Linked DNA regions of Homo sapiens: region 1 is linked to region 2. The links come from fine-mapping of genetic effects on gene expression. A gene starts in region 2. The other region holds a variant in brackets. All regions are shown on one strand. Distances are between the middles of the regions.

Evidence for each region. PIP is the estimated chance that this variant, and not a neighbour inherited with it, causes the effect.
Region 1: its variant is fine-mapped to the expression of ARFIP1 in cerebellum (GTEx, PIP above 0.99). The same link has a PIP of 0.9 or more in thyroid.

The regions. Positions count from the first base shown.
Region 1 is chr4:152,848,586-152,851,505 of GRCh38, reverse strand. All of the region lies in intron 2 of ARFIP1 (ARF interacting protein 1), which reads right to left. Among named protein-coding and RNA genes, the nearest start is that of ARFIP1, 70 kb to the right of the region's middle. RefSeq lists enhancers at 250-908, 795-1,089. The variant G/A (reference allele first, on the strand shown) is at 1,237.
Region 2 is chr4:152,778,760-152,781,679 of GRCh38, reverse strand. It overlaps ARFIP1 (ARF interacting protein 1), which reads right to left and starts at 1,726. Exons shown (of 9, transcript NM_001025595.3): 1 at 1,454-1,726. TIGD4 (tigger transposable element derived 4) reads left to right here and starts at 1,950. Exons shown (of 2, transcript NM_145720.4): 1 at 1,950-2,198. RefSeq lists enhancers at 1,449-1,498, 1,689-1,848, 2,299-2,508.

The DNA of each region.
Region 1 (2,920 bases), 70 kb before region 2:
TATCTCTCTAGCCTCATTTCTCACACACCTGCCCTCACATTCTCCATTCCAACAACATGAATTTCCAGTTCTATGGTCTCACACTTCCTTCGGGTTGTTACAGTTGCTTCTGATGAGAATATTTTTCACCCTTTATCTGGCTAGGTCATCCTTCAGACCTCAGCTTATATAGTAATCACTCAGGTAATCTTTCCATGCTCCCACCAGTACTCAGACCATGCTATACTTGGCCTAGCACAACATTTTTCACATGGTATTAAAATTAATTTGTCTATATCCTCTCTTCCCATTCCGAAGACCATATGCTAAGATCAGGAAGCTTATCTATCTTGTTCACCACTTGTATTCTTGACATCTAGCAGAGTGTCTATTACTTCATTTGGCAAGAAATTTTCTCAGTAACATCTCATGCTTCAAAAGGGACAAAACCTTCCAAAGCATCTACATAATAAATTTTTTAAAGAAACAAACTAAAACACTTATGTTAAATGTTTGATGAATTCTGTTAATTTAAAATCTCCTTTGTTAGTTTAACAGTTAGCTGTCTATAAAAAGTATCTGCCAGAAGCAAAGCTATTATTACAACAGCCTCCACATCCCCAGTTCTGTAACACTATTAACCCCCCTTAAGTGGCCTCTCTGCTTCTCCACAATTATCTTGAGTTTTATAAAACTGATTATCTTCCAACATTCTACTTATCAATATTCTATTGTTAGAAGGCAGGGTCAGCATTTTCTAAACTCTCTATTGGTACTTCTAAACAACCAGTTCTCAAACCTTAATTTCAGTAGGAATCACCTGAGGATCCTGTTAAAAATGCAGATTGCTCTTAGCTGTGTGGTGATTCTCACTGAGTTGGAATGTGAAGCCCAGAAATCCGAATTTCAAAACAAGGAAATCAGGTGATTCTGATGCAGGCGATCCTTAGTCTATTTTGAGGAACTGTTGTAGAGAACTGCTTTCCATTCTTGTGCAACTCTGCCCCTACCCAACCCCCCCGTTTCCTGTGTGTCACCTTCCTCACTGCCCTCGTCCCCACCTCAACATTGTCATCTACCTTCTTTCCAGTCAATTTCAAATATTTATTGAAGACTTTGGCACATCTAGGGCTTCTGCTTTATCCCTAACTCTCACCATTAAACTGGGTGTTTCTAACCTTTTGCATGTTGGTGGGCACATTTTCAGGAAATGATTATAGATGTTCAGTTAGCAATTCCTTCCAAGCTGATATATTC[G/A]CTGTCTAGGCTGAAAGTTTTCACCGATCATTAAAAATACAGTCCACTAATGTTATGGTAGGTAGTAAGTTGCTATATTTTAAAATATAAATTGTAAAACACTTAAAATCTGTTCCATGAGCCTGCCTACCTATGCTGATGCAGAATGACAGGGGATAGTAATAATGATATGTAAAGGTATGTGATTTTATTTTCCCTCCGTATACTTGCAGAAATGCGTAAAATTGGTAATCTGGATCAGGTTTGGGAATCTGTAGTTGGACAACATGCCAAAAAAGTGTCAGGGCAGATAAAAGACATTTTAGACTTAGTATAACCCAATCTACACCTTAGTCTCAGATTTCATTAACATCTTCATTTCTAATGCCTTTCATCTTTCATACCCCATATTCCACTCAGGCAACCTAAACTCAAATTGCCACTCTTAGACCTTGTCATCACTTCGGAAGCAACACTTCTAGATTCTCACTTTAAATAAGTTTAATAACTCACTTTATGATCACAATATCCTCCTGTATCTTATTCCATCTAATCAAGAGAGTAAATCTAACATTTTTATTGATTTTTTTCCATTTACCACCATACACACACACACCTGCCTGCCACAGACACACAATTTCAATCTTCTTTTCTCCCTCTCTCCCATTCATTCAACAATATTTAACAAGAACTTACAAGTACCTTTTGGTGGTTCACTGCCTACCCTCTTGGCCTCACCCACTTAGTCTAGATTCTAAGTAGTTCAAAAGCTTGAATCATGTACCAACTTGCATCAAAGAAATACTGAATTCATTCACATACTATCACTGTGGAAATATTTATATGTATCTACATTCAAAATAATTCCTTCAAAAAATTTAAAAACGACATATTCCTAATAGCTTTTGTTTATAAATAACGACACACTCTCAGATTATAATTTAAGACAGATAAGCCTTCAACCTTTCATTATGAATTGTATTTTCAACAAAATTCCTCCAAGAAATAAAAAAAAACATATTACTAATAGCTTTTGTTTATAAATAAGGGCACACTCTCAGATTATAATTAAGACAGATAAGCCTTCAACCTTTCATTATGAATTGTATTTTCAACAGGACTCTCAATCCAGAATTAATTTAATGTATGTGTATATTAAAAATATACTTAAAATTTTAATTTGTAGTAATAGTATTAAAAGTATAGCCTATAGCTGAAAAGCAAACAGTATTAAAATGAATCTAGATTTGTATGGGTTAAACAATCCTTGAAAACCATTTGCCATACCTCTAAAAGGGATCAACATACATATTTGGTCAAAACTGGCTCTCTGAAAAAGCCCCCATCAAATCATTATTGCCATTGACCGAGCTACTACATTTTTTATGTGTGAGTAACGTGGAAACATTATATTGCATTCCTATATAGAATGGAGACAAACTGTAATCACATGCTATGAAAACCCTAGGGTAGGATGGCTGAAGGAGAAAAGATGTCAACTTTTAAGTCTATTTACTAGAATTCATTCTTTTATTGAGCAACTACTATGAACCAAAACTTGTGCTGTGTATACACACTATCTCTGACCTAACAGTGATTCCAATCTCTTGGGAAAAGGAGATAAATAAGTTACAACATGTGACTGGTGGGGGTAGGAGTTGGAGGAACAGTGTTCCAACAATTTCTTGTATTTCTTTCCCAAATC
Region 2 (2,920 bases):
GGGAGAAGACGTGGGTCATGCTAAGCAAGGAAAACAAAACAAAAAACACCACAGGACAAACGAAAGAAAAGCAGAATTAAGGCAGCAGTAAAATATAGTAATCTGTAGCCGCTCTGAGAGAACAGCAATGAAATGGCCAATTCGGCCGGGCGCGGTGGCTCACGCCTGTAATCCCAACACTTTGGGAGGCCGAGGAGGGAGGATCATTTGAGGTCAGGAGTTTGAGACCAGCCTGGCCAACACGGTGAAACCCCGTCTCTACTAAAAATACAAAAATTAGCTAGGCGGTAGTGGCGCCTACCTGTAAACCCAGCTACTCAGAAGGCTGAGACAGGAGAAAAGCTTGAGCCTGGGAGGTGGACGTTGCGGTGAGCCGAGATCGTGCCAATGCACTCCAGCCTGGGCGACAGAGTGAGACTCTGTCTCAAAAAAAAAAAAAAAAAAAGAAAAAAGAAAAGGCCAATTCCTGAAGCCTTAACAGACGGCTGACTTAAGGTAACCATTTCTGGTGCACATTTCTATGCCAATTAAGTTAATTAAATGGCAAACATGAACACACCCTTACAGGTGAAAGTATGAAAGCAAAAGTTTATGCGAAGTTCTGGATCTCTTCCGGCTTTTCCTTATCAAATAATAATGTAGTTAGATGAATTTTATACTTTAGGAGAAAACAGGGTAGGGGCGGGGGACAGAAATCCTAAGAGTGGCCAAAGGATCTGCAGGAAGTATAAAGTGTAAACTTTTTGAAATCAAAGGGCTCAAGAGGAAGGTAAGAACAAAACAAAGGAAGTAATAACAAAATAAAGTAAAAGGGAAAAACGTCTAGCATCTAAAAACTGTTTTTAAAAAATTATTTCCTTTTCCTAGACACGTAAACAGTAGTAACTTGGCAAACAGGAACGGAGCAGAAGACAATCGAACAACTCCCTTTCCAAAACTCCAGCATTCCTTAGTCAGGCTTGGGACATTTCACAGGCAAGACTCCTCTCTGCACCACTGCCAGATGAATCTCTCAGAGGGACTGTCACTATCTCCCTTCCTCCCACTGCGGGAGAGAGGAAGCTGGGGATGCAGGGAGAAGAGGGGAGAAATGAGGGTTGGACAGCAAGCCTGAAGGTGGCCCACTCCGACACTTTGTCAAGAAAGGTCCGGATTCTGGATCCTGCAACTCCTTTTCCCACCCAATGTATGCAAAGCCAAGAGAGTGCCTCCCTGCAAGGGCCGGTCCTACACCTTCACTCGACTGTTTCGGGGGCACACTCAGAGGGACAGAAGGAATGAAGGACAGAAGAAACCAAAGGCATAACACTTGGGCAGATACGGCACAGACTAAGGAGAGGCGTGCCCTGTGAAAGTTCGGAACGGTGAACCCGTAGGCAACGTGCCCGCCCCACCAGCCACCTCAAACCATCTTTCCCCCGCCTTTTCCCAGGCGAGCCAGCTCCGCCCTCACCTTTCTTAGGGTAACTCGGTAGCTTCTAAGTCGAGGCTTATCCTTTCCGCCGCTCTCTGGAATCGCCTCAACCCTGGCAAAAACTGAGCGGAAACGCGACCCGGACCTTTTCCTTCTTCCCCTTCCCCCACGCACCTCGGCTGCTCGGGGGCGGGGAGCAACTGCAGCTGTCACAAATTCACACTGACCAACCGCCGAGGACAGTCGGACCGGCGACCTCTCAACCCAGCCTCCAGAACCAGAACCAAGAGCAGCGAAGCCGGAAGTGAGGAGACCGGAAGTAGCGTTGTCCCTGGCCCTGGACGGCCTCTCTCTCCCTCAATCCGGCCTTGCCCGGCCACGTCTCGGTGGTGTCAGCGCACCTCCCACGAGGATCCCTCCGCCCTTCTCCGGGAGGCGGGCTACGCCCCTCCCTCTGCTGCCCTAGCAACCACATCCGGGACTCCGGCGGTGTCGTTGCCCGGGTAATTTTCTGGCAGCGACCTAATGCGCGCGGGGCCAGAGGCACCGGCTAGAGCTGGGAGCTTGCGGAAGGGCGCCCCTGCCTGGTCTTGAGAGGTCGAAGGTCTCCAGGAGGCCTCCGCCTCCCTCTTTTTCATTCACACACCCTAGCCTCACACGTTAGGAGGACCCCCCCAACAGACCGTGAGCTGGTGCCGGGAGGGTGGAGGTAGATGTACCTCACCTCCACGCTACCACAGAAGAGCGAAAGCTGCTTTCTCAGCCACCGGAGAGCACGAAGAAGGTTATTCCAGTCCCGGGGGGAAGGTGGGGGTGGTAGGGAGAATGCGAAGATAAGGCAGCAGACGGAATGCGGGCGCTGCCTCGCGCTGCCCCCGTGCCTGGGGAGCCCTCTCCCTTCAGAAAGGCTAGACCCCCGGGCCCGGCATCCCTGAGCTCTTACTTGCTCTGGATTTGTGATCGCTTTTTGCTTTTTGCTCGCTCTCTCACAGTAGATTCCTTGATACTTTTCTTTCCGGCTCCTCTTTCTTTTTCCGGATGACCGAGCTCTGCTTTCTTTGCTTGCCCCATTACTTCTTAAATAGATCATTGTTCTGTCACGGAAACTGCTGAACAATTCGCTCTCTCAGAGCCCTTCGTAGTTTCCTAAACGGGGCCCCAACCTGCACTACTCTCCCCATCCCCAGAGCTCAGTGGTGCGAAAGCGTGGCTCCCCCGTGGCGCTAGATAGACCTGAAGTTCATTTACACACTGTACCATACAGTTGGTCCATCACAGAATATCCCTTCGAACTGCTGGACTGCTTTTCCTTTGACAGCTTTGAATGCTCATTTTTACTCCCATTTCACTTGTAGAAATGCGAAGGGTAACTGTGCACACGGCGAGATTTACCCTTCTTTAGACCGTACTTCTCAGCTGCCTTTACTTGTCACAGTAGCTGACAAGATATTTTTAATGACTAATGCCCAAAGGCAGAGCTCTACCTCTACAGATTTCCAGGGAGTT